4 linked regions of the Homo sapiens genome follow. The protein of the gene in region 2 purifies or fractionates together with the protein of the main gene of each other region. This does not show direct contact. Each region holds a gene or a part of one and is shown on either strand. Other genes may lie near its edges. The genes, in order: CD82, CD19, CD9 and MINDY3.

Region 1 (6,324 bases), on a different chromosome or scaffold from region 2:
TTTTCCTTTTCACCAGGAAGCTCAGAGGCAAATCTCAACTCCTGCACTAAAGTTGAACGGCCTTTCCTAAGCTTATTGTGCTCCCCACACCTATGCTTGGTACTTTGCCTGCCTCATCCCATTTAGTCCTTGTGATAGCCCTGTGAGTTGGGGATTTTAATTATCCCCATTTACAGATGAGGAAACTGAGGCTAGTTCCTTGATGGAGGTTGCTCAGCTGGTAGGCGGCAGGGCTGGGATTGTAACCCAGTAGCCTGACTTTAAACCCTGCACTGTGAACTGTCTGCCGTCCATTCTCCTTGTGCCCTGCACACCTGCGCTCCTTCAACTTGAACTTCCTTCCTACTCTGCTTTGTATTTTTGCTGGTCCTGGTTTTGATTTTTCTGCTGTACTTGTAGTTTATGATGGTTCGGCTGGGACCAGGGGCCTGGAAGTGGCATATCTCAGTCTCTGTCCTGGGGAGGTCCTCCCTCTGCCAGGAGGGCAGCCTGCCTAGGGTGAGCCGTGAGCACAAGCAGTCTGTCCCCTGCCTTGCCCAGGTGAAGTGCTGCGGCTGGGTCAGCTTCTACAACTGGACAGACAACGCTGAGCTCATGAATCGCCCTGAGGTCACCTACCCCTGTTCCTGCGAAGTCAAGGGGGAAGAGGACAACAGCCTTTCTGTGAGGAAGGGCTTCTGCGAGGCCCCCGGCAACAGGACCCAGAGTGGCAACCACCCTGAGGACTGGCCTGTGTACCAGGAGGTGTGCGGGGGGCTGCGGATCGGGGGCGGGGCTCCGAGGGCGTTGGGGGCCATCTGGGCTACTGCTCAGCAATTCCTTCCTGCATTTAGTTCCTTCCCTTAATTCATCTGTCATTTGTACCTTCATCTACTTCTTTGTTAATGTATTTATTCAAGGAACAGGCAGAGCCCTCTGTAGGGGCTTCCGGGCTGGGACTGGGGGGCTCTCGGTGGTTCTGCATGGCGGGGTGGGATGGTGCAGAGCGGGGTGATGTGACCGCATTCTGCCCTTGCAGGGCTGCATGGAGAAGGTGCAGGCGTGGCTGCAGGAGAACCTGGGCATCATCCTCGGCGTGGGCGTGGGTGTGGCCATCATCGAGGTCTGAGCCCCCTCCCCCATCCCTTCTCCATCCCAGGTCCTCCTGGGTTGTCTCTGTTCTGCTGATCTCCTTGGGGAGGTGGTGGCCAAGGGGGCCAGCACCCCATCAGCTTCCAGAGGCCCTCTGGTCTGAGCACTGTCTGGCTGTGTGACCTCAGACAAGGCACTGCCCCGCTCTGGGCCTCCCTCTGCTGCCTGCATCACAGGGTGGTTGTGAGGCTCAAGTTGAGGATCCACTTAATCCCCATGTAAACCTGGATGGTGAGGCTGGGGCGTCTGAGGCCGGGACACCCAGCCTCCCTCTGACTCTCCGCCTCTCCCCACAGCTCCTGGGGATGGTCCTGTCCATCTGCTTGTGCCGGCACGTCCATTCCGAAGACTACAGCAAGGTCCCCAAGTACTGAGGCAGCTGCTATCCCCATCTCCCTGCCTGGCCCCCAACCTCAGGGCTCCCAGGGGTCTCCCTGGCTCCCTCCTCCAGGCCTGCCTCCCACTTCACTGCGAAGACCCTCTTGCCCATCCTGACTGAAAGTAGGGGGCTTTCTGGGGCCTAGCGATCTCTCCTGGCCTATCCGCTGCCAGCCTTGAGCCCTGGCTGTTCTGTGGTTCCTCTGCTCACCGCCCATCAGGGTTCTCTTAGCAACTCAGAGAAAAATGCTCCCCACAGCGTCCCTGGCGCAGGTGGGCTGGACTTCTACCTGCCCTCAAGGGTGTGTATATTGTATAGGGGCAACTGTATGAAAAATTGGGGAGGAGGGGGCCGGGCGCGGTGGCTCACGCCTGTAATCCCAGCACTTTGGGAGGCCGAGGCGGGTGGATCACGAGGTCAGGAGATCGAGACCATCCTGGCTAACATGGTGAAACCCCGTCTCTACTAAAAATACAAAAAAAATTTAGCCGGGCGCGGTGGCGGGCACCTGTAGTCCCAGCTACTTGGGAGGCTGAGGCAGGAGAATGGTGTGAACCCGGGAGCGGAGGTTGCAGTGAGCTGAGATCGTGCTACTGCACTCCAGCCTGGGGGACAGAAAGAGACTCCGTCTCAAAAAAAAAAAAAAAAAAAAAAAAAATTGGGGAGGGAAGGGCGTTAGATAAGGCACTCTGGGCTGTCAGGAGACTGCCTACTGGGTGGGTCAACTTATTTCCCACTATGACATTTATATCTTTATTTTTCACAATTATATTGAAGGCAGTGGGAGAGGGGAGAGGGTGGGTTTTACCTGATATTAAGGGGTGGCACCCCTTCCCCAGGCCTGATGCAGGTCCATCTAGACAGCTCAGATTAGCCTAGGCCATGCCCTAGGGACACGGCCTAGGGGAGCTGGGCTGGAGGGGGTCTGCCTGGGTAAGGGGATCTGGCTTGGCCCTGAGCTGCTTAGGGACAGGTGAGTCCTTGGGGGCATGGCACAGAGCTGGTCCTGTATTCTCCAGGGTCCGGAGCTGGCCAGGGGCGGGGAGGAGGAGGATGGCTTCTCCTGGGAGAAGGTGGGCTGGCCTTTCTTGGCAAGCGGTCCTCTGGCCCCTGGGGAGTGGGGTGGGTGAGGCTGTGCCTTGTAGGGGGAGAGGGGAGGGGGCTTTGTGTGCACCATTCTGTAAAACACACTCAAGATTCTAAGACTATTAAAGAGGATTTATAACAGTCTAGTCTGGAATGGTAGGGATGCTGCTTCCTGGGGCAGGGGAGGACCCAGGGCAGAGGGTGTGAGCAGAGTGGCTGGGTCTGCTGGAGACTGCTGGACCCCTCACTGCTCTGCCCTCCCCGCAGGCATCTGCTTCTGCAGCCTGAACCTTAGGACCGTGATGGGCCAGGCTCTGATGGGCCTGCCTGCATGCCGGGGTGCCTGGAGTTTGATTTGGTGCTAAGAGAGGTATAGATTGTACCTCTCAATTCCTGCTTCTGAAACTAGGGTATGGGTGCCCCCAGAAGCTGCACAAAAGTGGGCTGGTGATGGGGGACAGGGAAGCCACAGGATAAACTTGGCATCGCTTTCTAGAGCATCCGTTTCTGCAAAGATTTGTGGAAGGAAACATTTTCATACTAAAGAAATGTGATGGAGTAAGATGTGCAGAATTCAGGGGACTTTTTAAGATGAAATGTGAGACTTTGGGAGGCTGAGGCAGGTGGATCACTTGAGGTCAGGAGTTCGAGTCCAACCTGGCCAACATGGTGAAACCCCATCTCTCCAAAAAATACAGAAATTAGCCGAGTGTGGTGGTGCACGCCTGTAATGCCAGCTACTCAGGAGGCTGAGAAAGGAGAATTGCTTGAACCCGGGGGATGGAGGTTGCAGTGAGCCAAGATTGTGCCACTGCACTTCAGCCTGGGCAACAGAGCGAGAATCTGTCAAAAAAGAAGAAAGGAAGAAAAAGAAAACGACAGAGAGAGAGAGAGAAAAAGAAAAAGAAGCTTGCTCTTACTTGTGCACGGCTCTGACGACTGAGCCCCAGCATGCCCCTTGCCCGGCGTCATGAAGTCCAGAGGGCACTTGCCCCACCTTCTCTCATTTCTGGAGCCAGTGGGGAGGGGAACTCTTGCCTCCCTGCAGTGGGGCCAGGCGGGGCGGCGGCTAGAGTGGTGTTTCAGCAGGGACCACCAGGCGGCGCTGCAGCCTCAGCCTAGGAGCCCGGCAGAGCCCAAAGGTTCCGTGGTTACTCCCAGTTTCGCCAACGCGGGGCCTGCCAGCGTCCCACTCCAGTGGAAGCACTTGTGAAAATGCAGATTCCAAGGCTCAAGGATTCTGGCGCTGCAGATCTAGGGTGGGGACAAGGAATCTGCCTATTTGCACCCCTTTGCGTTGATTCCGGAAGATTTTCAGACCTGGAGTAATGTCTGTCCCAAGCCACGTGATGACCTCTCAGCGAATGTGGCAGCTGAGGAGGTGTCAGCGGTGGGGTCGGCTGTGGGTCCCTCTGTGGCCTTGGTCGCCTCCCTCTGGGATGGGGGCAGGAGAGGAAAATGTCGATGGTTCCACCTGGCCTGACTTCCCTGGCCCCCCACAGCTTCCACCCTCAGGAAGGGTAGCAGAGAGCTGTTGGGTGTCTTTTCATAAATGCTTTCTCACTGGGAGCAAGGGGACCTGAGTTTGAGTCCAGCTGCATCTCCATCTTCCTGTGCGACACGGGGCCTGGCAGGCTGAGGGTGGGCTCAAAGCTGTTTGCAAAATAGAGGACTGAGAAAACGTCAGAAGTTAGCGAAGGGGTGGGCTGCTTCCTCTGACACGTCCATCCTGCCCAGAGCTCACAGCTGGAAGGGGCCAGAGCCAGGATTTGAACCCCACGTATCTGACTTCAAAGACCATCCTCCTGGCTCCACTGGCTCCTGCCCTTCCAGATTTCCCAGAACAGCCCCAGGACGTGTGTAGTGTGAGGCTCTGACCCTCGCTTTTGTGAAATCTGGTCACTGTGAGCTCTGAGCCTGCTGGGTTCCTCATTTCAACCTCCTGGGGAGCACCCAGTTTCAGCAACCCACTTACTCCCAGCCTGTGAGGTTTTGGGAGGGAGGGAACATAGACCCATGTCTAACACTCAGAATCGTCCCTGCAGCCACTAATCTGTCCCATGCCCATCTGGGGCTTCCACACCTTCCAGCTGCCCTCCCTGGGCCCTCTGTGGGCTGCCATCTCTCCTGCCAAGGGCCCTGACAGGCCCAAAGGACTGGCACATGGGTACCATGTGGAGGAGAGTACAAGGGTGCTCCTTGGCAGTGCCCACCCACAGCTCCCTGGGGCAGCCAGGAAGAATGGCTGGAGCAAAGGGTTGCTCTTTGGGCTCCCGTGGGAGGTTAGAGACAGTGCCTAGGATGTGTTCAGGGAGCTGGACTTTGGGGGGCACTGATTGGCATGGCCACTGACCAATAGGTATGGAAGTCAGGCCTGAGCTGGAATGGGATCCTTACGTATGGATTGGCGGGAGGTGCAGGAGCTCTGAGAGATTGAGCTGGGGGGGAATTTTCAACTGGTGTGGAAATATTTCTCCATTTTATTCATAATAACTGGTATGGCTGGCTGGGTGAGTACTGGTGAATGGCAGCCTGATACATGTGCACATACATGCATGCACTCTCTCACACGCACACACTCGAGGCCCTGAAGGCCCCTGAGGGCTCAGTCCATTCCCAGCTGGGAGGAACCCTAGCTCTTCTTCCCTGAGACTAAGCCATGGGTGGCCCGTAGTGAACAGGGAAAGCCAAGTGTCTTCCTGCCTGGCCTTCCCGGGCCTACACTGCAGAGCCCCCTCTGCCGCTGATCACCATCCTGTCTCCTAGCAGAGCTGCCTCCAGCCTCTGCCCCAGATGATCTTCCAGGTGAGCAGGTCCCCCAGGCTGAGAGCAGCCGGGTGGAGGGGCACACTGGTGACGCTGGAGCATCTAGCCAACAGGCATCTCCTGGGCCAGCGCTCCCATCGCCTTTCTCCCCTGCAGAAGGACAGAGACCCAGGTTGCTACGCTGCCTCGGGGCAAATGTCTGGCTGTTCTCTGGGGTCTTTAGAGGCTGTAGGCTAAGGTTTATTCATTTATTCATTCATTCATCCCATGAATACTTAATGGCACAGACTATTTGTGAAGCACAGTTCTAGGATCTTAGGAACACAGCAGTGAACACACACAAACCCCCTGCCCACATGGCACCTGCATTCTGATGAGTGTAGAGACTCTTGCACACAACTGATGCACCAGGACACACGTGCACACACAGCACACGCATGCACACAGCACACCCTGCCACACGTACACAGGTACGTACCAGCACACACTGCCGACTGCTGACAGCACAGTCTGAGCCAAGTGCTGCTGTGGGATCCCTGGGGCCCATCCAAGGCCCCTTCCTGTGGAAGGAAGTAGAATGAACAGCGCGTCGAACAAACAGGAAAGTAGGAGGAAGTGCTCATCGCCCCTGCCACAGTGCAGGAATCAGCCATTGCCCTGGCAATCCCCTTCCCAACTGAAATCAAATAGAATCAGAGCAGCTGCCACTGGACGTGACAGGCTGTGCAACTTCACCTCTCTTAGTCTTATCGGGAAAATGGGGACTCTCATTCCTCACTCCCAGTGCTGTTGTGGGAGCCAAATGCGGTCACGTACACAGTGAGCTCATTCCCCAAGCAGCCCATTCCAGGACTGGCCCCAGCTTCAAGGGGAGGTTTCCCATCCTCTGGGGGATACCTTCCCTGAGTAGGAATGAGGCCCACGGGAGGACTTTGGGCCTTGGTGCCTCCGGGGCAGGGATG
Region 2 (8,000 bases):
TTAATAGTATACCTACCTCATAGGGTCGTAAAGATAAAATGAATGAATATACACAAACATACATAACATGTCCATAAAATATACATAAAATATTTGAATACAATCCTGCCACATAATAAGTGCTTACTATCTTTGTGAAGTTATTGTAACGATAAAATTTGCTCATTGATATTAGTGCTTAGAACATAGTAAGGTCGGGCACTGTGGCTCACGCCTGTAATCCCAGAACTTTGGGAGGCTGAGGCAGGTGGATCACCTGAGGTCAGGAGTTTGAGACCAGCCTGGCCAGCATGGGGAAACCCTGTCTCTACTAAAAATACAAAATTATCCGGGTGTGATAGTGGGCGCCTGTAATCTCAGCACTTTGGGAGGCCAAGGTTGGTAGGATCACTGGAGCCCAGGCATTCAAGACCAGCCTGGGCAGCATGAGGCATTCAAGACCTCATCTCTACAAAAAATAAAAAATGAGCTGTGGCCGGGTGCGGTGGCTCACACCTGTAATCCCAGCACTTTGGGAGGCCGAGGCGGGTGGATCATGAGGTCAGGCGTTCGAGACCAGCCTGGCCAACATAGTGAAACCCCGTCTCTACTAAAAATGCAAAAAATTAGCTGGGCATGGTGGCGGGCACCTGTAATCCCAGCTACTTGGGAGGTTGAGGTGGGAGAAATTCTTGAGCCTGGGAGGTCGAGGCTGCAGTGAGCCATGATTGCACCACTGCACTCCAGCCTGGGCAACAAAGCGAGAGCCTGTCTCAAAAACAAAAAAAAAAAGAAGAGTATAGTAGATGCTCAATAAATAAGTACTCAGTGACAATGAATAGCATCTTCTAACTAGACTGCTAATTCCTGGGCTGTTTCTCCACTGGGCACCCAGCATGTAACTGCTGAATTAATGATAATTGGGTAGCTGGATGGTGGGAGGGGGCTGATCGTGACGGATCTGTGGGCAGCGGGCAAAAGAGGGCAGTAGGTGAAGGCTAGGCCATGGAAGGGGAAAGGCCCTTTGTTTTATTTTTATTTTTATTTTTTGTTGAGACGAAGTCTCGCTCTGTCGCCCAGGCTGAAGTGTAATGGCACCATCTCCACTCACTGCAACCTCTGCCTCCCAGGTTCAAGTGATTCTCCAACCTCAGCCTCCCAAGTAGCTGGGACTACAGGCTCGCCACCACACCCAGCTAATTTTTGTATTTTTAGTAGAGACGGGGTTTCACCAGGTTGACCAGGCTGGTCTCGAACTCCTGACCTCAAATGATCCACCTGCTTGGCCTCCTAAAGTGCTGAGATTACAAGTGTGGGCCACCGCACCGGGAAAAGGCCCTTTGTATGCAGAAGGCAGCCCTCCCTCTTCCATGGGATTCAAGACGCCTTTCCTTCCCTTCCTTTCCTTCCCTTCCCTTTCCTTCCTTTCCTTTCCTTCCCTTCCTTCCCACACAATGGCACTACTTCATAGGATTGGAAGAGCTCATTGAGTTTATTTAAGGAATACAAAGGGGACTGGAAGTGTCACTGGCATGTATACACACACACACACACACACACACTTACACACATGCACACATCCTAAGCAACATTGCTCCAGAGGTTGGCATCATCTGCTCGAGGTCTTCAGATTTCAGAGTCAGGTGTGAATCTTGGGGACTTGAGGAGATCCAGGCTATGCAGAAGAAACGGTGATGGGGAGGGGTCCAGCAGTCCTCCCCCTGCCCACCAGGCCCTAGGAACCCTGTTCCCTCTCCCTCCCTGAAAGCCAGCAGCCACTGCCATCCGTGCCTATCTCCCTCCCTCCCCGCTTTCCCTAGGGGCAGTCCCAGCTCACCTGGCCACCTGAGGATCACCTGGTGCTCCAGGTGCCCATGCGGCCCCCTCCTCCCCAGGCTGGGTCTGGCCCATCGGGATTATCCATGTTCTCATAAGAGTCTGCATCTGGATAGGACCAGGGAGGAGGAGAACATGGGTGGCACTGGAAGTAGGCTGGAAGGCAAAGTCAGCCCAGGGGACAGCAGGGGACAGCGGCAGAAGCACCCACCTTCCTCATGATTGGGTCCAGGCTGGCCCCGAATGGAGCGGAGCTGGGGGGCTGCATACAGGATTCCTCTCATATCCTCATAGGACTGGGACCCTGCTTGGGCGGGGGATGGAGAATTGGAGGCTAGGGCATGGGAAGTACAGCCTACGGTAAGGAGGAAGACTGAGGGGCAGAGGAAGGTGAGGAGCATTACCCATGCTGTGCTGGGAAGGGGTGATTTGGTTAGCATTGAGTTTGGGGCCCCAGTTAGCTGTAGGGTCAGGGTTAGATATGGGTTAGATTATGGCTAAGGAAGGGGTCAAGAACAGAACTGGGCTGGGCGTGGTGGCTCATGCCTGTAATCCCAGCACTTTGGGAAGCCAAGGCGGGCAGATCACTAGAGGCCAGGAGTTGGAGACCAGTCTGGCCAACATGGCGAAACCCTGTCTCTACTGAAAATACAAAAATTAGCCAGGTGTGGTGGCAAACGTCTATAATCCCAGCTACTCAGGAGGCTGAGGCATGAGAATCGCTTGAACCTAGGAGGCAGAGGTGGCAACTGCACTCCAGCCTGGGCAACAGAGGGAGACTCCGTCTCAAAAAAAAGAAAAAGAAAAAGAAGAAACTGGAGGGAGTCGGAGTCAGAGTCATGAAGAAGCTGCAGAGTAAGCTGGGGTCCAAGTTGAGGTCTGCACTGGGGCTGAGGTGAGGTGGAGATCAAGTCCAGGCTGATACTGCATTGGGATCGGTGTTGATATTCACAGTTAGGGAGGGGGTAAATATTGGGGGTCAGGATGGGGGATGGGGCTCAGGATGGGGGATGGGGCTCAGTGTTGAGGTGAGAGGAGTCACAGGATTGGGTTCGGGTTTGGGGTCAGGGTCAGGTCAAAGTTGGATCTGGTGTCAGAGCTGAGGCCAGGTCACCCAAGCTGGGCAAGGCAGTCTGATTGAAAGCATCTCTCACCCAGGGAGGTTGCTTCCCGGCTGGGGTCCCAGGCTGACCCATGAGGGCTCAGGAAGTCTGGAAAGGGAAGAGGGAGGTTACTATTCCTCCTGGCCTCCAGGTGTCCTCCGCCTCCCCCCTGGACTGTTGCCATCCTCACACACACCCATTGTCCTGGCGACCGGCTGGGTCAGCTCTTCATCCTCGTTCTCATAAGACTCAGCTGTGGCAGAAGAGAGAGAACTCCAGGGACCCCTTCTAGGAGTGTCACAGCGCTGCAATTACACCTAAGTCTCTGAGGTCCCACAAAGGCCCCAAGTTACCGTTGGAGAAGGAGTCTTCATCCTCAGGACCCAGGGGCTCATCCTCAGGGTTCTCGTAGCCGCTGCCATCTGGTGGAGAAGGAGGGGTGTCCATGGGAGTCCACAGGCCACCGCAGAGGTGGGGGGCCACGGGGGAGGGCAGCCTTACCCTGGGAGAGCTGGTCCTGCCCAAGGTTGGAGTCGTTCTCATAGAACTCGGAGTCCTCCTCACTGTCAGGTTCCTCATAGCCCTCCCCTTCCTCTTCTTCTGGGCCTGGGGGTTTGGGGATGGGGATGGGGAACCGAGTCATGCCCCCTCTCCTCCAGGGCCCAGTCCACTATTCGGGCCACAGACCGCTCCAACCCCCTCCATGTGGGGAACGACCCTTCCCTCTCCCAGTCATTCACCCACTCCCGGCGGGCTCCGGGACCCCAAGGCTCCATCCGCCTGGACGTCGCTGCTCGGGTTTCCATAAGACGGGGCAGTGCCCCCCAGGCCTGCGGCCCAACGCTGGGCGCGTCCTGGTGAGAGGGGCATTGTAAGACGGGGTCAGAAGAGATGGGGGCGGTCAAGGCTAAGGGTCCGCGCGGCGGGGCACGGGAAGAGGATGTTTTGGGCTCTGCGAATGGACTCTGGGTCTAGGAACCCGGCCTTGAACCCTGGGGCGGAATCTAAATCTAGGGCCGAGGCCTTCAGTTCTGGGGCGAAGTTCTGCTCTTGATTACGACTTCAGGCTCTGGGTCCTGGGGGCGTGGCTCTGAGCCCTGGAGGCGGGGTCTGGTTCTAGAGGCGGGGCTCATAGCTGGGCGGGACTCCCCGCCCCGGGGGCGGAGTTCCGAGCTCCAGAAGGCTTGGCGCACAGCGGATTGGAGGGATGAGGAGAGTGGGGGTGGAGCCCCGGATCTGGGGCGGAGCTATAGGCTGGAGGGGCGGTGCCTCTTACCGAGGCCTGAGGTGGGTGTGGGGAGAGACAGCACGTTCCCGTACTGGTTCTGGGGCCCGCTTCCTGGGGGAGGCGTCACTTTGAAGAATCTGGCGGGAGAAGAGGAAGTGCACGGTGAGGGCCGACTTGGAATGGAATGGCGGACCCACTCAAGATTCTGTCCAGGCCTTCAGAAGTTAAACGTGATCACTTGTGCTGGGACAGCCAATAGAGGAGTCTGAGATGATCATTTCCAAGGAGTTCTTCACAGAGGAGGTAGCTTTGGAGCTGGGCTTTGAGGTTGGGCAGTATTTGAAACAGTAGAGACGGAGCAAAGAACCCCTGGGCAGAGGAAACAGTAAGTGCAAGGCATAAAGTGAAGGTGGAGGGTGTTACCGCGGGGTGCACTGGTTGCATTACCTCCTGGTGGGGTCAGTCATTCGCTTTCTTTTCCTCCTCAGGACCAGGGCTGGTGGGAGTTAAAGGGCGTGATCAGAGGAGGGGCTGCTTGGCAGGGTGAGGATTTGTGGGGCCAGGTGCTGGGGAGGTCACTTGGTTCAACAAAGGAGACAGGAGTTCAAATTGCGAGGCGGACGGGCGCGGTGGCTCGTGCCTGTAATCCCAGCACTTTGGGAGGCCGAGGTGGGCGGATCATTTGAGGTCAAGAGTTCGAGACCAGTCTGGCCAACATGGTGAAACCTCGTCTCTACTAAAAATATAAAAAATTGGCCGGGTGTGGTGGCATACACTTGTAGTCCCAGGTACTCGGGAGGCTGAAGCACAAGAATCACTTAAGCCTGGGAGGCAGAGGTTACAGTGAGCTCAGATTGTGCCACTGCACTCCAGCTGGGGTGACAGAATGAGACCCTGTCTCAAAAAAAAAAAAAAAATTGCAAGAGGCTTGGGAAGTTTGAGGGAGGCTAGAGGAAGACTGGGGAGAACAGGATTCTGGGGTCTTGAAGGGAGGGATGGGAGGAAAGAAAGATGGTTGTCAGACTGGCCAGAGCCGGCTTATCCTGGGGAAGATGGAGTAGGGTTTGGACAGACCCACTGGGGACATGACTCACCTCTTTGAAGATGAAGAATGCCCACAAGGGAACACAGGCAGAAGATCAGATAAGCCAAAGTCACAGCTGAGACCTTCCAGCCACCAGTCCTCAGCAGCCAGTGCCATAGTACTAGGGGGAAGGGGCTATGAGACGAGGACCCCAGGCTGGCATCTTACGTCCCAATCCTGAGATCTCAAGGAACCGCAAGTCTGAGGCACAGAGGCAAGACACAGACTCGGCCGGGCGCGGTGGTTGACGCCTGTAATCCCAGCACTTTGGGAGGCAAAGGCGGGTGGATCACCTGAGGTCAGGAGTTCGAGACCAGCCTGGCCAACATGGTGAAACCCCATCTCTACTAAAAATACAAAAAAATTAGCTGGGCATGGTGGTGGGTGCCTGTAATCCCAGCTACTTGGGAGGCTGAGGCAGGAGAATCGTTTGAACCCGGGAGGCGGAGGTTTCAGTGAGCCGAGATCACTGCACTCCAGCCTGGGCAACCACAGCAAAACTCCGTCTCAAGAAAAAAAAAAAGACACAGACTCAAAGTCCCAAGCTGTGAGAAAGGCTCTCCTCTCTCTAAGGAGCCATGTCCCAGGAGGTCAGGGATTGTCACAGACCCTGGCACAGGACATGGGGCAGTGTCTTTGAGCAAATCGTGGACAAACCATGGCTGTACTCAGAGGCAATGTGTGGATTGAGGGGAGCATAATGATCAGTTTCCTGCTGCAATTAAGGATAGTCACGGTCAAAGTGAAGGGCAGAGTTGAGTTTGCAAGGTTACAGTTGGGATCCAGCACATTGCTTGGATCAAGTTTGGAGTGAAAGTTGGGGTTGGGTTTGTGAATTGCAGTTAGGATAGCATGATAGGATTGCATGGAGAGAGAATTGGCAGAACACTGTGACCAGTTTGTTGGACGGGGTGAGGAAAAAGAAGGATGCCCAGGTTCTTAGCCTGGGCGAGGGAGCAGGTGGTGGTGCCCTCTGCTTACACTGGGCCACCAAGAAGACTATACTTGGGGAAGACATTGAGTTTGATTTTGTATCTGTTGAGCCTGAGGTGTCCATGGGATATCAAATGGCACAGGAGATGGCTGAGTATGGAGCCTGGAATAGAGTCACCAAGGCATGGTGACCCAAGAAGCCATTGAGAGTCAAGTTCAAATAGGAAAGTGTGCAGACAGGGATAAGAAGAGGGCCCAGGGCTCCAAGAGTGAGGAGTTGGGGAGGAAGGAAGACTCCACCCAAGCTGGTGGGCAGGCGCAAGCAATGGTAGGTGAAGACCCAGAAAAGTAGTGTCTTGGAAGCGAGGGAAGAAAGACTTGAAGTCTAGGCCAGGTGCGGTGGCTTATGCCTGTAATCCCAGTACTTTGGGAGGCCAAGGCAGGCAGATCACCTGAAGTCAGGAGTTCAAGACCAGCCTGGTCCAACAGGGAGAAACCCCATCTCTACTAAAAATACAAAATTAGGCTTGGCCCGGCCCTGTGGCTCATGTCTGTAATCCCAGCACTTTGGGAGGCCGAGGCGGGTGGATCACGAGGTCAGGAGTTTGAGACCAGCCTGGCCAACATAATGAAACCCCATCTCTACTAAAAATACAAAAAAAATTAGCCAGGCTTTAATCCCAGCTACTCGGGAGGCTGAGGCAGGAGAATCACTTGAACCTGGAAGGTGGAGGTTGCAGTGAGCTGAGATCGTGCCACTGCACTCCAGCCTGGGTGACAGTGCAAGACTCCGTCTCAAAAAAAAAAAAAAAATTAGCCAGGCGTGGTGGTGGGCACCTGTAATCCCAGCTACTCAGGAGGCTGAGGCAGGGGAATCACTTGAACCTGGGAGGCGGAGGTTGCAGTGAGCCAAGACAAGATGGCACCACTGCACTCCAGCCTAGGCAACAGAGCGAGACTCTGTCAAAAAAAAGAAAGACTTGGAGTCAGTGTTCTGTGTGGAAGTTGGGGTTTGGGGTGAGGCTGGGAGTAGCCCTCGGGTTGGGGGAATCTAAGATTGACTGGCTTCCACTTCTTCCCAGTACCCCCACACAGATGCCTCCCAGTTGAGAGAAACTCTACCTGGCCGAGCAGTGATCTCCAGGTGGAATGACATGGTCAGGTTGCCACGGTGACAATAATACTTTCCAGCGTCTTGAGCTGTGGCCCGGGGCAACAACAGACCCGTCTCCATTACCCACATATCTCTGGCCGGGCGATCGTCCTTCAGCTCTAGGCTCAGCAATGACTTAGGCCCCTTGGGGTGCACATGGGTCCAGGAGAGGGGGCCCCTGGACACAGAGTCAGGGGGTACCCCACAGGACAGCCAGAGTGTGGAGCCAGGGGCCATGGTGAGGTCTGGGACAGGGAGAGATAAGACAAGGAAAGCCTGATCCTCAGGGTTTCACCTCTTCAGTTTCCCCTCCCCTCTGTCTCTGGACCCCCGCTTCCCGGCATCTCCCCAGTCATCACCATACCCTGGCTGAGGCTCTGGTTCAGGCTGTCCCTCGGTGGGAGACACGGAGGCTCTCCCTCCCAGATCTCAGGGCGGTCTTTGGCCCACACATACAGCTTGGGGCTCATGAGCTTCCCGGAAGGGGAGCTGGGGCCCTCTGAGGACCTGTTCTTCAGGCCACAGCCCAGGCCACCTAGGTCCGAAACATTCCACCGGAACAGCTCCCCTGGGAAGAGACCCAGAACCAAATGCAGAGACACCCAGGAGAGGGAGAGAGATAGAGACTCAAAGACAGAGATAAATAGAGACAAAGACCCGCAGAGAGAGAGAAGACAGTGAGAG
Region 3 (10,128 bases), on a different chromosome or scaffold from region 2:
TGCCCGGACATGAGGAAAGAGCTGAGCACAGCTGAGCCCAGAACTAGCATTTACAAGGCGTTAGTTAAGAGTCAGTGAGCAGGCAACTACTATTGTTCACAAAAGACAAGAGATTTGGGCAAGTAAAGGGAGCGAATCCACTCCGTGGAGTTCGGAAAAGACCAAAACAGATTTTGAAACAAGAAGGAGAAGGCAAAGGTACCTGTGGATTCAGGGAAAAAAAGCAAACGTGGTCCTCGAGAAAAGGGGGAAACATAGTCCTTTTAGTTGCCTAGGGGAAGCGATAAGACAGGCTCCAGAAAGGAAGAGGGGCGACGCCTCACATCGGGGAGGGGCCCAGGCTGAGGACAGCTCATGCCCTTTGGGTACCTTCCTGACCCCATCCCCCTCCATCTGTTCTGTGGTCTGGGTCTGGGCCTGCTGAGGTTTTTGTTGGTGGGAGTCAGGGTGGCTGTGGGGATGCCGAGGGGATACTCACCAGTCCCAGCATGCACTGGGACTCCTGCACAGCCCCGCAGCAGCCCAGGAAGCCCACCAGCATCATGAGGGCGCCGGCTCCGATCAGAATATAGACTCCTGCGGGAGGACAGAGGAAGCACACACGCGTGGAGACATCAGTTCAGAGGCCCAGGCATCTCCGGCAATTCCTGTTTCCCTCTGCCTAACTCCTGCCTCCCCACCTCCTTATTCCCCTCATCTCAGGGAAGAAGTTCCCTTTCCTTAAAATACAGCCTCCTCTTCCACCTCTGCCCCAGGTCTCCTTCCCACCAGCCTCTCTTGCATGACTCTGCTTCATCAAGCTCACGCTCCTACCTTACCCTCAGCCCTTCTGGAAGGTGCCCATTAGCCCTCAATCCAGGACAGAGAATATCCACGGGAATCCCTACATTCGGAATGCAAACTGGTCCAGTCTGTCAGCTCTTTCCAGCAAGATGAATCCACTCAAGCTAGTTAGCATATACCTTCCACACTCTGGCTAACTTCTGGGACCCTGCCTTACAGAGGACGCTGTCAGAGCAGATTTCCAGCAGGAAGGGGCCGTGCACACCTAGGCACCCCCCTACCCAGGGGTGGGGGGAACCAACTCTGCCTGTTCCCAGAAGGCGGGCCTCTTTGCCCTGTTGCTGGGTGGTGGTTAGGCACATACAGTTAGGAACACCCAAAGGCACCTCTTGGCAAAGGTCCAATACCTGACTCTAGTGCAAAGGACACAGATCTGGGTGTCAGAAGACCCTTCTTTTGGCCCTAACACTGATGCTAATTGCTGTGTGACCTGGGGTAAGACATTTTCCCTCTCTGGGCCTCAATTTCCTTACTAGTAAAATTAAAGAGGTATGTTCCTGGAAATTTCAAAAGATCTCTATAGCATGCTAACAAGATCTTAACAGTCATAACTCAGTTATTGCAGGTTAAGGGTGAAGAGGCTCCTCCTTGCTAAGGAGAGGATGAGTGACACCATTACTAAGCCCTTGATCTGAGTGGCTCATGGAAAGGAGGTGAGAGAAGGGCAGCAACTTCTATAACTTTTGCCCAAACCCAGAACAATGCAAATTCCTGGGACACAAACAGTAGAGCAGCACTGGCCCCATTCGTTCCACAACCCACCAAAGGAATGCCCAGAGGGGCCACCCCACAGTTCTATTCTTGAGAAGCCACAGCTGTCCTGCAGGGACTATTCCCTTAATCAGCACCCCAGCCCTACATGGGTCCCAAAGGAAAACCAGCAGCAAAGTCTCTGTGCCTCCCTGTCTTGCAGGCATGTTCTATCTAGCCTTGGGAGAGGCTACTGTCACATGTCGAGAGCACCAGATCTGTGACTCTGGGGAAGCCACTTAACCTCTCTGTGCAACAGTTTTCTATCTGTAAAACAGGAGTAGCAATAATGCCCACTTCCAGGATTGCTGTGAGGATTAAGTGATATAATCCACATGTGCACAACAAATGCTAGCTGTTGTTAATCTCAATTATACCAAGCATGAGTAACAATCATTAATAATCACCATGGTGAATTTTAACCTGCTGCTGTATCCCTACTGTCCTTTCACTGGGACCAGAGAGATATCCTTGATGTAGGGGCTGAAAACACGCACGCGAGAGAGAAAGTCTGTGATGTTTCCCCACAATACACAGCAGGACACTCGATGAGAACCCTCGGCAGGTGACACGCTGACTTCACTGTCCCACATCTGCACCCCGAGCAGGGGTGAGACTTTGCAGGCAACAAACCATGCAGTCTGCCCGCAGCTGAGGCTCACGGGCAGCACAGAGCAGAATGCACACAGAGAGCGTTTGTTCCTCCCCCTTCTCCCCCACATCCGTCGTGAGGTCAAGTCACGTGGGGTTACTGGCAAACCCCATGTTGCAAGAATATGGGTATTGTTCTTGTGCATGCCTGGCCCACACTGGGCAAGGGGACAAATGTAGCTTGTCCTCAAGTCAGGTCGCATCTTCCTGGGCAGTCAAACGCTGTTGAGGCCACAAGCTGGGCTTGGGGAGGCTGTGCAGCCCCATGCATGGAGCACTGGGTAAGAGGGCAGCCTCCTTTGGTTCTCTCACATGGGGACAGTAGAAAGGCCCCAGTTTCTCCCCATCTAATGGGGGCAAGTCAAGGAAGGATGAGGTCACTCCTTTGAGCTCCATAGCAGGGGCTGAATAAACAGGAGGTATTAAGAGATCAAAAGGATTTACAAACACATGAAATACCGTGGAGTGGGAACGAACAGGCAGACATGTTTTCTCTAAGTCCAGATCCCAGTTCTTGAACCTGGCGGTCCTGGCAGAGGCCAAGGGAATTGGATTAGCTGCAAGTGAGCTACTAAAGAGAAAGTATTTCCCACGCAGAGAAAGAGAACATGCTCCTAATGGGGCTTGTGGTTAATATTAAATATTCATGCTAGGGCTCAGCAGAGGAAGATTTTAGGATCACGGGTTTTGTGGGCTTTAAATCTTGCGTGGATGGCTACGGATCTGCAGTGCCTAGCTTTAGCCCTCTCTAGTCACGGGAAAAGGGAAGCGATCCCCTGGCAGCTGTGTTCGGGGACTCAGCAGCAGCCGGCAAGCTACAGGACAGCTCATCTGGAAGCAGGCCCCATGGAAGTCACGGAACCACTGCAGGGCTCGGGCTGGTTTTTACAAGGGCTATTCAGTGCTTCCCTTTGGAGAAGCTACTCATCGCTTACACCCCAAGCTTGTTAGCCAAGGCTGCTGTTGATAAATGACAAAGTGTTCCCCTTTATAAAACAAGCGAATGTTAGCTTGCTGTCTGACTCATGGAAAAAGTTATCCATCACAGAGCCTTCTCTAGGATTACGGTATTAATTTGCTTAAGGGTTGTTTATTCTGCTTTTTTCAGGCTGACATTACAGGCCCAGAAAAAAAAAAAAAAAAGAAAGGCTGGTGTAGCAGCAGTAGCATATGCCAGCGTGTCCTTTACACAAGAAATGGAACAGTGTTTTTCACTGTTCACCAGGGCTCTCAGTTTAGCCCAGGGAGAGGACACAGCAGGCTCCCGTCCCTACACCAGCTCTGTCCTGCAAACAGCACTCACCACGCCCGTTTGTGTGAAGGAGAACAAAATCCGGTAGGGCCTCTGGCCTGCAATAAAAGTTTATTATATCCAAATAACTCCACCAGGTGTTCAAAGGAGCCCTACCTCTGCCCCGACTGGTTTCGTCTTGGTTCCCGCCCTCCCGAGTTCACGGGAATAAGTGCCACAATGGAATTCCATTTGCCACACGCTGTACTTCTTTGCCCCAGAGGGGAGTGGGTGTGTAAGCTGTGCTGTGGTTGTGTAAGCTGTGCTGGTTTCAGGAGGGAGAAAAATGAAGCCCAGAGCAATAAAATGAACTGCCCCAGGTCACAAGCCAGGATGGGGATGCCAGCTTACTAAGGCCAAGTGTCGCGTGTCCTGAAAATCACCAGGCACCTCATCATGGATAGGGGGCTGGCCGAGGAAGGGGGGGCATTCACGGCCTCTGGCTGGAGCCCCCCTAGATGCCCTCATTCAGCAGCCATGGTTCTGGAGGGACACCAGGGAGCTGGGAAAGGCTGCTGGCCTAGGACCAAGAAAATGAAGTTCCCCAACAAGTTTGCAGCCTGGGATTAGGGATCTTGCTGACGGGCTGAATCTCCAGGCCTGGATTGGAGAGAAGGCCCATATAAGGCTGTCAGCTGCTCTGGACTTACCATAGACTGTTCTGAATGTTGGAAAGGTTTTCACTTGCTTTTCTGCCTGGTTATATACTCTTTCTCTACTTGGTAAGCTGTGGCCCCACTGGAGAAAAGACACCCCTGGGCTGTTCAGGTTTCCTGAAAAGTCAGCTGCATGGTCAGGCTGGCCTGTGGGTTGCTCTGCAGACAGTTGGTGGCCCAGTGCAAGGGGCGGTCACCCCATGACTATTCCTTGGAAAAGTAGCCAGGGTGTGGCTGGCACTCCAAGCTCATCTGCTAGGAGAAGGGCTCTGGGCCAGTACAGAAGGCTGGTCTCACAGCCTCGTGGGGAAGGGGACACAGAGCGACGCCTCCTTGGCCCTTTGCCCATGGACGACAATTATTATTTCCTAAAGCGTTCAGTGACGTTCAGGGCATAGCTCAGACCTAAGCAGTGCTCAGAGTGCTGTGCTGCTGTTTTTTTTTTTTTTTTTTTTTTTGAGATGGAGTCCCGCTCTGTCTCCCAGGCTGGAGACAGAGCCTCAGTGGTGTGATCTCAGCTCTCTGCAACCTCTGCCTCCCAGGTTCAAGAGATTCTTGTGCCTCAGCCTCCCGAGTAGCTGGGATTATAGGTGCACGCCACTACGCCCAGCTAATTTTTGTATTTTTAGTAGAAGTGGGGTTTTGCCATGTTGGCCAGGCTGGTGTCGAACTCCTGACCTCGGGTGATCTGCCTGCCTCGGCCTCCCAAAGTGCTAGAGGCTGAGGCGGACGGATCACCTGAGATCAGGGCTGATCACTGTGCCCAGACACAGTGCTGCTGTTCTAACTTTACCGTGCATCATCCCCCTTGCCGGCGCTTCTGCAGGCAGAACGAAGTCTTCAAAGCTCCGCTCTCTTCCCCGAATGGGGTGTCGCTGCAAAGGATCTGTATTTCCCTGGCAGAGCTAAGTGGACAGTGGCCCTTAGACCCCAACTAGGGGATCTGTGTCTCTTTGGGGTTGTGCCTTCAAATCACCCTCCTGGTCACTTCAGGTAGGACCACCGGCCACCAGCAGGGCCCTGCAATGACCTGCAGGATCTGAATCCTGTGAGGTTCCCAGAGGTGAGCCCCAGCTCCTCTAATGGCACTCACCATTCTCCTGCCACCCTGCAGCTTTCCCACCTGTCAGCTGCTGGCTGGGCCACCGACGCAGGGGTTTCTCTCCCTGACTGCAATTTGGGTGAAGTAAAAGGGCCAAGACAGCGCCACCCCATCCCTGCCAATGGGGCACATTCAGCCAGTACAGACCTCTTCCATTCCTACAGAGGGAGACCCCACAACCTGGCAATGACAACCCGAGAAGCAGCTCTTTTAGGCCTGGGTTCAAAACCTGGCCCTGCCTCTTGAGGGAATATAAGCTTAGACAAGTTATTTCAGCTCTCTAGGCCTCGGTTTCTGCACTTGTGAGATGAGAATCACTCCACACTCCTCGTAGAGCTAAGGGGATTAAATTATATAATACACACAAGACAATGAATGACACACAAAGAAGGGGGCTCAAAAATGTTAGTGTCTTCCAGCCGGGCGAGGTGGCTCACGCCTGTCATCCCATCACTTCGGGAAGCCAAGACGGGAGGATCACCTGAGGTCGGGAGTTGGAGACGAGCCTGACCAACATGGAGAAACCCCGTCTGTACTAAAAATACAAAATCAGCTGGGCATGGTGGCACATGCCTGTAATCCCAGCTACTCAGGAGGCTGAGGCAGGAGAATCGCTTGAACCTGGGAGGCAGAGGTTGCGGTGAGCCGAGATTGTGTCATTGCACTCCAGCCTGGGCAACAAGATTGAAACTTCGTCTCAAAAAAAAAATAAAAAAAATAAAAAATAAAAATGTTAGTGTCTTCCTCCCAGTTCCATCCTCTTACCCATGAGATTCTTAACTCCCACATCTAAAAATATAAAGAATCAGCCATAGAGGCTTTGGGTAACAGAAAAGAAAAAGTGGGTTGTTAGAAGCAGCCAGGACAAGGGAGGACTGAGTCTCTCTTTGGAGACACACGCGCCGGCCACAGGGCTTTTGCTTAGGAAAGCAGGCCTGACTGTGCCTGCTCCTGCCGGCAGACCTGCTCCCCCAGCACAGGGCTCCCTTCTGGAACACGGCGTGGAGTGTGGAGAGTCTTCCCCAGCACCCGCACCCGGCTCCTCCCTCCTGCTCTGCAGGACAGCATTCTAAGCCTGTCACAGACTCCCAAAAAATGGTCTGTTGCCAAAACAAGTCAGGGCGCTATAGAAACCTGTTCCCCAAAAACTCTGTGTGTATGTGTAGTTTTTTTTCTAAACATACATTGTGCTTTCTCTCACTTTCTTTCCGATAATAGAGAGACACACCCCAAAAAACCCCAGCTAACAATAAAAAGCAGTAAACCCAGCAAAACTATCCACAGGGCTCAAATGTTACGCAACCAAAGGAGCTGTTTTTAAAGACTCTCCCTACCCAGTTCAAGAGGTGGGAAAGGGAAGGTCTACGTGGCTGGCCAGCCTTGCTTCTCCCTGAGGGACTGGGAGATAACTGTTTTCTCCCTCGTTTGTAAAAATAACTTTTTTGGTGGGTGGGAAGGAAGTGACCAAACTTACATTTTGAGCCTGACAACATGTCAGCGTCATCCTAAAAATAGGAGGTTTCCTTTGTTCCTCACAAATGAAAAGTTTCCTACCTCCAAGCCAGGCAGAGTACAGCCGCAGAGTCTGAATTCACGCAGACGCGGGCAACTGCACTTGGCAGGCACCAGGCTCCCCCTCCTCTGAAGGGAGCTTTGACGTGGTGATACGGCAACGAGAGGGATAGAATGGTCTAGCAAGGCTGCCAAGAAGCCTGAGTGTAGAAAGAAACCTGCCAAGTCTGTTCATGTTCAGAGGATCCCAGGCAGGTTTAAACTGGAAGCCTCTCTCCCAAAGCAAAAGTCGTGTCAAATACAAACAAATAAAACTAAACACTACAGCATTTACCCCAGTACCAGGGGTCCAAAGGACTGGGCAGAGTCCATTCTAGTCTCTCCTATTGTTGCTGTGTTTTCCAGGAGGCTGATGTTTTTCCCAGTCTCAGAGTCCCTATCTGAACAGTGAAGAGGAAAGCTGTCTATATCTTCTTCCAGCACTGCAGATCCCCAGGACAAAGCTTTTTGAATTAAGGAAATGATGCAGGATAAGAAGACAATCAGGAGAGAGCATCAGAGATGAGAACAGAGGTTCGTAAACCCTCAAGAATGAGTACAACTTTGGCAGAGGCTACATCACATCAGAGAACCATCAACATGCCTGACTTGGCCATCAGGAAAAGAAACCACATCAGTTAAACGCAAATTCCCAGGCACAACGACACACACAAAAACTGCACAACTTGAAAGGGACACGACTGGCCAGCGTGGCTAGAGCAAAAGTCTTTCCCAAGCCCAAGTCCCTGGGTCAACATGGGGCCTCCAAAGTTGCAGGAACTTTGTTGGAGCCAGGGTCTGAATTCACTGAGCCTTCCCCGTCCCTCACCTGTGTAGAAGCTGGAATTATTATTATTAGTTTCTTGCTCGAAGATGCTCTTGGTCTGAGAGTCGAATCGGAGCCATAGTCCAATGGCAAGGACAGCAATCCCGGCAAGCTGCAAGACATACAGGACATCAGCATTAATTCTGGCTGCCAGCAACAACACAGTCCCCACGCGCTTAAGGGTGAGACTTGCAAAGGACTTTGTGACCACCCTTGGTCTCTGCCCCTCATATACGCCTGGTAGTTGTAGATGCCATTACGGGGTGTGTTTGATTCATGCAGGTACTAAAAATACCAGCAAGCGAGGAATAAACAGTGACCTACCTGCCGCCCATTGGCTGAAGGGGTATTTTATAGGCAACAGAACACTATACAGCAGTGAAAACGAGTAACTCTAGCTACACGCAACACCATGAGTGCATCTCACAATGCTAAACCAAGAAGCCAGAGCCACAGGCACACACACAATATGATTCCATGTAGTTAAAAACGCTATGCTGTTTAGGGATGCACACAGAGCTAGACGCTTACATGTGCCTATAAATGATAAAGGAAAAGCATTGTTATCAGGTGAGTGGTGATGTTTAGGTGGAGGAGGAAATTATGCTCAGGGAGGTGCCATGTGGCTGGGGGTGTCGTATTCTAACTGTTGACTTGGGTGATGGTTACACAGTTCCGGACACACATGCACCAGGGAGGGCAGCTGCAATGTCCCTGGAGACCTGCTGCTCAGTAAATGACATGCCAGGGCCTCCCCTCGCTGGCACTGCTGAACTAGATGCTGTGCAGGAGGCCTCCTGCCAAGTCCCCCCAGTGCCAGCTGAGCTCCCTCGTCGTCACCCGTACCAGGGCTTGCCGGGGGAGTGACTCACAGGCCTCCAGTGTGGTAGCCGGCTGGACGCAGGAGTGGGTGGGCCCAGGTTTTGCTGGTCCACCCTCCTCAACAGAGGCACTCTTATGTCAGAGCCCGCTCATCAGGGACCTTGGTTCTCGGCTCCAGGAGCTATTGATAGCCCATGGTGTGGACAGGCCTCTCTTTCCTTCCTCCTTTCCTCCTCTCCTTTCCCTTACGATATGGCAGTGAGTGTGGGCATGTTGGGTGGACAGCAGATGTGGCAATAGTGGGAAGGGCCACCCAGACCTCCGCCTGCAGCAGTCACAAACTCACCTACCCCCCAGGAGCATAAGGGGATTTGCTCCTGCCAGGGAGGTGTGCTTCCACCACGAGGGGCTGCAGAGTCTAGCTTCATATTCTATTGCTTCAGTGTTCCCATCTGTAAAGCAGGGATTGTGAGATGCGGCCCTTCCCTGCCTTTTAGGTATGGCTAAAGAATAAAGAAGATAATATCAGAAGTGCATCTGAAGAGGAAGGTACCAAATGGGCTCTGGGAGAACCACCTCACTTTACCAGCATGAAGCCCCACCAGCCCTGCACTCCCAGCCTGTGGACTGTCACTCAGCATCTTCTCAGCCTCTCAGCCGCACCTTAGGGCAGGCAGCTCCAAACATTGGTAAGGACTGTACGACGCCACATGCCCCGCGGCTGGACAAGGCAGAGGAGAAAAACTCACACAGGCACAAGAATTTGAGAGTTCAAATGAACTTGAGAGTTCTGAGTTCAAAGACGAGTCTGATTTTCTTTCTTAATAAAAGGCCAGTGAGGGAGGGTCTCCTGGCCTAATCCAAAGGCAGCAAGCAGATCACTGTTTGGTTGGGGAGAAGCGTGAGTCTCCACCGTCCTGGACCCAGCAGGGTACTCGCATTCAGACCATGGGTTCCCCGACCAAGAGCACTGCAGTTAGCTTAGGCGGGGAGGCGGGCCCTGCTGGGAGCGTGCTGGGCTAGAAGAGTTATGTGGCTTGAATTCACGTACACAAGGGACTAGACAAGCACACACTGGGCGGTCTTGACTCTGTACATGGCAAGTCCTGGCCTGGGTCCCCCCCCAGGTCCCTGAGCATTAAAAGTACAAAGGTGGGCTGGGTGCAGTGGCTCACGCCTGTAATCCCAGCTCTTTGGAAGGCTGAGGCGGGTGGATCACGAGGTCAGGAGATCGAGACCATCCTGGCTAACACAGTGAAACCCCGTCTCCACTAAAAATACAAAAAATTCTCCAGGCGTGGTGGCGGGCGCCTGTAGTCCCAGCTACTCCAGAGGCTGAGGCAGGAGAATGGCGTGAGCCCGGGAGGCGGAGCTTGCAGTGAGCGGAGATTGCGCCACTGCACTCCAGCCTGGGCGACAGAGCGAGACTCCCTCTCAAAAAAAAAAAAAAAAAAGTACAAAGGTGATACCTTCCCTCCTTCCACCCCAACCCCAGGGAGGCCCAGTCAGTCCCCTGGGAATGGAAGACTGAAGCTGCTGGCCTCCTGGACATAAAAGCGTTAACCTGAAAACTGTAGGCCGGTGCTCAATTTTGGTCCACGTTTAGCCACAACCTGTTTCTCACCCTGGTCCTCCC
Region 4 (5,962 bases), on a different chromosome or scaffold from region 2:
CTATACTATATTTGTTTATCCCTCTATTAGCTGATCAACAGGTTGTTTCCACTTTGTGGTTATTATGAAATAATACAGGTATGAACATTCACAAAAAGTTTCATGTGAATATGTTTTCATCATTTCTTTTGGTGATATACCTGGGAGTTGGGATTAGTGAGGCATGTGCCATCTCTGTATTTTTTTGAGCAGCTACAATACTCTTATCTGACGTGTCTTCACCATTTTACATCCTCACCAGCAATGTATGAGGGTTCCAATTTCTCCCCATCTTCACCAACACTTGCTTTTGCAGATCTTTTTTATTTTAGCCATCCTAATGACTATGATGTGATATCTTATGGTTTTCACTGGTATTTTTCTAAGGATCAATTGGTGTTTCTCTAAGGACCAATCTTCTTTGGGGGAAATGTCTCTTCAAATCATTTGTCCATTTAAAAGTTTTTGTTGTTGTTGTTATCAGTTTTTTATATATACTGTATTCAAATCCCTTAATATAATTTGCAAATATTTTCCCCACTCTATGGGTTGTCATGTCACTTTGAGGGTGTCCTTTGACACACACAAGTTTTTAATTTTAAGTCCAATTTATCTTTGTTGTCATTTGTGTTTTGTATCTTATCTAAGAAACCATTGCCTAACCCAAGATCATGATCAACTCCTTTGTTTTCTTCTAGGGATTTTATAGTTTCAGCTTTTATAATTAGATATATAATCAATCATTTTAAGTTACTTTTTGCAAATGGTGTGAGGTAGGGATCCAAATTCATTCTTTTGTATATGGATATTCTTTTAGGATTTACTTCCTCTTATTTTGGGTTTGTTATTGAGATAAAAGCTTAGGTTCCCAATTTTCAAATGTTTTACTTTTCTAATATATCATATTTAATGCTATATATTTCCTTTATTTTTGCTATGTCATATTTTCATTAACACTCAGTAGAAAGTATGTTCTAATTCCCATTGCAATTTCTCTTTGACCCTTTGGTAATTCATTAGTGTGTCACTTAATTTCCAATCTTTTGAGATTTTCTAGACTTACTTTATTGCCAGCATATAATCTAGTTTGGTAAGCAGCCCAAGTGCATGTGGAAAGGAAATGTTCCCATGGCTATTTAAATGTAGTGTTCTACAGCAATGATATCAAGCTAAGGTCCAGTCATGCTTGCCACGTGAGTAGAGACAGCTTCAGAAAATTCTAGCCCCTGGCTGCTGACTGAAGCAGACAAGCCATGCATCCCCACCTTGCCCCGTTTAGATTCCTGAGCAAAGAATTTGTACATTTAATCAAATGGTTGTTTTATGCCATGAAGTTTTGGGATGATTTGTTGTGTAACAATGGTAAGAGGACCATTCTATTTCATAGGCTTGATGTTTATGAGACAATCTACGATTTTGTGTAATCCTTTTGGAATTTGGGATTATTAAACCAGAGTTTTGAGAAACTAATTCTAGCATTATATATTTTATACAGATTTGGAAGTAGCCTAGACCAAAATATTGACATTTGAAAGCTGTAAGTTTAATAAGTAGTATCATACTCCTGAACAGAATGTCACCAAAAGTTATACACAAAATCTCATGCCTTTCCCTATGCTTAATTATATTGTAATTGTGTGTGTGTACGAAAGAAAACAAAACCCAAACAGAAATTCACACAGGAACTATACTATTGAAGGTAATGTTCAGTTCTGAAATGTGTAAGAGGATACTACATAATTATCTGCTTTACACGTGGCTTTACACGTGGAGGAAAAAAAGTATTAATGGCTATGTGATTTTAAATTGCTGGGCCACAAACCTATCAGAATACAGCAGATCTCTCTCTCAAGTAAACGGGCTTCTGCATCTTTGCTCACTGGTCTAGAAAGCTGCCATGTGGGTTCTCATGCTTCTGGCTGGCTGAGTTAGCAGAGCTCTTAGGTTAGCATAAGGCCTGGTCTCTTATTCGAGGTCCTGTATGACTTAGCCATTTGTAGTACTCTGTGCTCTCAGGGTTATTGGGTAGAAACATTTAGAAGTACGTATTTGTTTATTTTGAGCCACCAATGTAAAAAATGCAAGGGTACAGTTAAAGAAAAAGGTGTTTATTTAGGCCATCAACTAGGATCATAATAAATAACGTAATATACTAATGTAATAACAGATCTTCTCATGCATTTATCGTGTTTATAAATATAGAAGAAAGCTGGCTTACAGGGCTGTTGGGACAAATTTGGAAAAGTGTATTTGGCAATTACACAGTAAAAGTTAACAGTGTTGACTATCAGATTCTCTTTTCTGTCAGTTTTTAGAATACATCCCCTATACATCTGTGAATAAATGGTAATGGTCTCTTAGAGTTTCTACTTTTTGTGAACATGCCAGAGTTAAGTAAATTGTCAAAGGATCCAGGTTGACAATGTGTTATTTGTCAATATTTCTAATGAAAAACAGATCTTAGAAAAATGAACTCTTCTGCATTTCATTGTAGAGGCTGATATATTACAAGCCGGAATCATTCAAACAATAAAAAAAGTGCCTCAATGAAATAAAACCCAAAAGTAGTTTATCAATAGTAACTGTGATACTTAATATACAAATGCTGTAGTATTGCGTTTGTAATTTGGTAAGTAAATGACCAAGTATCTGAATGCAAAAGTGATGAACTTTGATGAAAGCTTAATTTTGCTAGTAAATTTCACACGAAGGGGTAAAATAGGATAATCTTTAACATAAAGCTTTAGGACAAATAATTTAAACATATCATAAACACTGAAAATGTGTTTTTAATTGTTATTTACAGTTAATCAGTGATACCAGTGTTTAGCTTAATCCAGCCAATTGCCAGTCTTGACTCCTTCTTTCAACATCTGTTATTAAGATCTTCCTTATAAATACTTAGACAAATTAATTTAGTGAAGGAGAGCGATCTGTGGTCCAGAGTAACTCAATGTATGGCCATTTGGTTTGCAGACAGCGTTTAATAGGAGTGTCATCTGTCTGTAGCATGGGATCTTCAAAACCCATCACAACTGCAGTCCCTTCTACGTACATGACCTGTTGAACAAAATAAAGCCACCAAGGTCAAGCAACAGTCTTAGCAAATTCTTATGTGGAATGAAAACAATTTTTAGAGGCTAGCAAATAAGGTATTACATAGTTTCAGATGAAACTTGACATGTAATTTTATTTTGCTAGAAATGAGAAGGAATATCTGCTTACTGATTAATGTGAAAGTAAATTTGTAAACGATATTTAATTGCTAGCTGGCCAGGTGATTTTTAAAAAATTCAAGATCATGTGAATCCTAAAACACATAGATTGTTTCTAAGAAAAAAAACATTCTTCAACGGATCTATACCATCGGAAAGAAATGCTTAATTATCATATTTACATATAATTTATACAGGTCCTACTGCTTTAATACTGAGGTTCTCAGATGCTCATGCTGCCTAATGAAACGGAGAGCTATAAAAGGAATATAGCTATTATGTTCTGAGGAACATGTGTCTCCTTCTAATTTAAGTATTGAATTTCTAGAGCTGAAACCAATTTGAATGTTTGTCAACAAAACTTGCTATTATGGTATTAAATATTCCTGAAATGCAATTCATGAGTGCATTCTGTACAGCATGAAAAATCATGGAGAAAAAAATTAAAAAGGATGTCAGGACAGAAAGAAAAGTAAAAGAGACGTTGAAAGATCAAACTAACCAGATACTGTATATGCAGTGGCAGTGATCACAGAAATATATACTGGCAGGTGAATAGCAAGAAAAATTTTATTCTGATTAATTTACAATGAAACATACTTAAAAAGTATTTTGGACATATCAACAAAAACCCTAACTCATTACCAAGGGCTCACTGTGGACATTAAGGCACTCCTTGGTGGTTAATTTCTTTTTTGTACCAAGAGAAATTCTGATGCTGTATAATTTAAAAGAAACAGATACAGACGACTGTCTTCTTCCAAAGTGTATAAAATTATTTTTACACATTCACTGGCTGATACACATGAGTGTAATTATGTTCTTCCAAAATAAAAGCCATAAGCTATTTAAGGAGCCAAAAGAAACAACTTTATTATCCTTAAATGGTAGTTGCCTCTAAAACACATTAAATATAGGAATAGAATATATTACTAGATCAGATAATCTTGTGTCATGAATCTACTCATTCCTAAGAAAGTGCTAAAGATACATTGTAACGTGAAATACATTTTTTGGCATCTTTATTTTAGTTAATATATTAGTTTCTAGTGTTGATGAAATAAATTGACATTGAAACTACAACTCGGGCTTTTCAGTCCCCAAAGCAAAACTGCCTTCTCTGAAAAGTTATACACAAAGAATATAATTCAAGTTATTAAGTTAAATACAATCGGCCCTATTTTTCACAAAGAACTTCATGTACTCATGTCATTAGAGCAGAAGTGCTTGGGCAAGGTGCCATGACCCACCTCCATGGCCTCAATCAGGCTCGGATGCCTGGCGGCTCAGACTCCATCTCACTTTGCCAGCATTCTCCTTTTGTCTGTTTCCTTTCTAACAGGACCTTGCTATGCAGCTTATAATTTTAGCTCCTGATTAACTTCAAAACATATTTCTGTGACTTAATGACATCCATACTTTGCTTTATAGCTGCTGTATATTACTGTCATTTTAACAGTTCATCCTATTTGTTTTCTAATCTTTTTGTTGGTGTGTCAGAAGCTTGTCACAAACATGATTTGAAAACTTATACTACATACAGGTAGAGTGGCCAAGCAGACCAAGGACAGGATTGGGAATCAGGAACTCAGTTCCAATCCCTGTTCTGCCAATGACTTGCTGTGTGACCCTGGGTGAGTCACTTGATCTCCCCGTCTCAGATGCCTCATCTGTAAAATATGGATAATATTTGACCTATCTTGCAGGGATTGTGTAGGTGAATAATTAGTGATTATAAAGTACCTCCTATTACAAAGCTGTGCAAACATCAAACTCTAGATGAAGCACTCATTCGCACATTAGAAAACAACATCCAAGTTTGCATATATATATACATGCAAAGAATATACATTGTCAAGAAAATTTGGATGCTGTATATATATATCTTTGGACCTGACAAAAACATCTAATTTATATTTTGTTATAAAGATAGCAGTAAATTTTAGTCTTTTAGATTTGGTCTAATTAAAATTATGTACTTAATTTACACTGTTTTCTGTAACCTTCCACAATTTAGATACATGAAGTCAGCATGGGCAGATCAAATTAAAAAGGAATGTTAGACCTTATTCCTTTAATATTAGCTATAACTAATACATATATATTATATATATATATATATACTATAACTAGTATGTACTGTAACTCATACTTGAATAAATGCAAAGATAATAGACACACAAAAAGGGGAAATCAATGCAGCCGAACTCTAGCTTTACGCCAGGTTGAGTACACCTGGCAGTGAATCACCTATGTGCTTTGTCAACGGTTAGCAAAGGAAAGCTGCAAAGCATCATGGGTAGGAGCATGGTCTCTGAGCTGGACTAAGTTTCACTCCCAGCTCTGTCATTTCCTGGCTGCTTGACCTGTAAAATGGAGATATACAGACAACACTTCCTTCATAAGGTGCTGTGAAACTTAAGCAAAGTACTTAATACAATTTCGGGTAAATGCTCAATATATGCTGACTATGAAGGTTATTTATTTAAAAATATTTTTTCCAGTAAAAAGTCTCACTGTTACCTCTTTCTTCCTTTAAATGGATAAGTAACAACTTTCACTGGACTAACTACGATGTTGATTTAGAAACACGCTACACTGCCAAGGGTAACGATCTGTATGGGGGTGTATTTAGTCATGGTGAAACTACTGCTCTGAAGTCCAATGTCAGTTTCCAATGCAGACTAACATATACTGGTCAAATCCAAAGATGGCTGATTCTAAAATGTGTCCTCATAGTAAAGAGACTCCTGGAATAATCTTAGGTA

Evidence for each region.
Region 1: the proteins of CD19 (region 2) and CD82 purify together in Homo sapiens (affinity purification with western blotting, with the first as the bait; 2 studies listed by BioGRID). This does not show direct contact.
Region 3: the proteins of CD19 (region 2) and CD9 purify together in Homo sapiens (affinity purification with western blotting; 2 studies listed by BioGRID and IntAct, with this or other methods). This does not show direct contact.
Region 4: the proteins of CD19 (region 2) and MINDY3 purify together in Homo sapiens (affinity purification with mass spectrometry; 3 studies listed by BioGRID and IntAct, with this or other methods). This does not show direct contact.

The regions. Positions count from the first base shown.
Region 1 is NC_000011.10:44,617,622-44,623,945, forward strand, and holds the end of CD82 (CD82 antigen), read left to right. Parts: intron 1-540; coding exon 541-744; intron 745-1,018; coding exon 1,019-1,102; intron 1,103-1,427; coding exon 1,428-1,505; 3' UTR 1,506-2,737; downstream 2,738-6,324. UniProt on the Homo sapiens protein: Structural component of specialized membrane microdomains known as tetraspanin-enriched microdomains (TERMs), which act as platforms for receptor clustering and signaling.
Region 2 is NC_000016.10:28,932,795-28,940,794, reverse strand, and holds the end of CD19 (B-lymphocyte antigen CD19 isoform 2 precursor), read right to left. Parts: exon of another isoform or gene 7,885-8,000; coding exon 7,681-7,884; intron 7,562-7,680; coding exon 7,286-7,561; intron 5,366-7,285; coding exon of another isoform or gene 5,352-5,365; coding exon 5,241-5,351; intron 4,643-5,240; coding exon 4,594-4,642; intron 4,284-4,593; coding exon 4,195-4,283; intron 3,773-4,194; coding exon 3,659-3,772; intron 3,525-3,658; coding exon 3,420-3,524; intron 3,341-3,419; coding exon 3,272-3,340; intron 3,172-3,271; coding exon 3,115-3,171; intron 3,027-3,114; coding exon 2,970-3,026; intron 2,123-2,969; coding exon of another isoform or gene 2,120-2,122; coding exon 2,027-2,119; intron 1,924-2,026; coding exon 1,832-1,923; 3' UTR 1,817-1,831; intron 1,655-1,816; 3' UTR 1,453-1,654; downstream 1-1,452. UniProt on the Homo sapiens protein: Functions as a coreceptor for the B-cell antigen receptor complex (BCR) on B-lymphocytes. Decreases the threshold for activation of downstream signaling pathways and for triggering B-cell responses to antigens.
Region 3 is NC_000012.12:6,223,080-6,233,207, reverse strand, and holds part of CD9 (CD9 antigen), read right to left. Parts: intron 9,240-10,128; exon of another isoform or gene 8,990-9,239; intron 8,945-8,989; exon of another isoform or gene 8,839-8,944; intron 7,783-8,838; coding exon 7,674-7,782; intron 7,070-7,673; exon of another isoform or gene 6,848-7,069; intron 577-6,847; coding exon 479-576; intron 272-478; coding exon of another isoform or gene 203-271; intron 1-202. UniProt on the Homo sapiens protein: Integral membrane protein associated with integrins, which regulates different processes, such as sperm-egg fusion, platelet activation and aggregation, and cell adhesion.
Region 4 is NC_000010.11:15,776,103-15,782,064, forward strand, and holds the end of MINDY3 (ubiquitin carboxyl-terminal hydrolase MINDY-3), read right to left. Parts: intron 4,865-5,962; coding exon of another isoform or gene 4,775-4,864; exon of another isoform or gene 3,747-4,774; intron 3,040-3,746; coding exon 2,890-3,039; 3' UTR 2,072-2,889; downstream 1-2,071. UniProt on the Homo sapiens protein: Hydrolase that can remove 'Lys-48'-linked conjugated ubiquitin from proteins.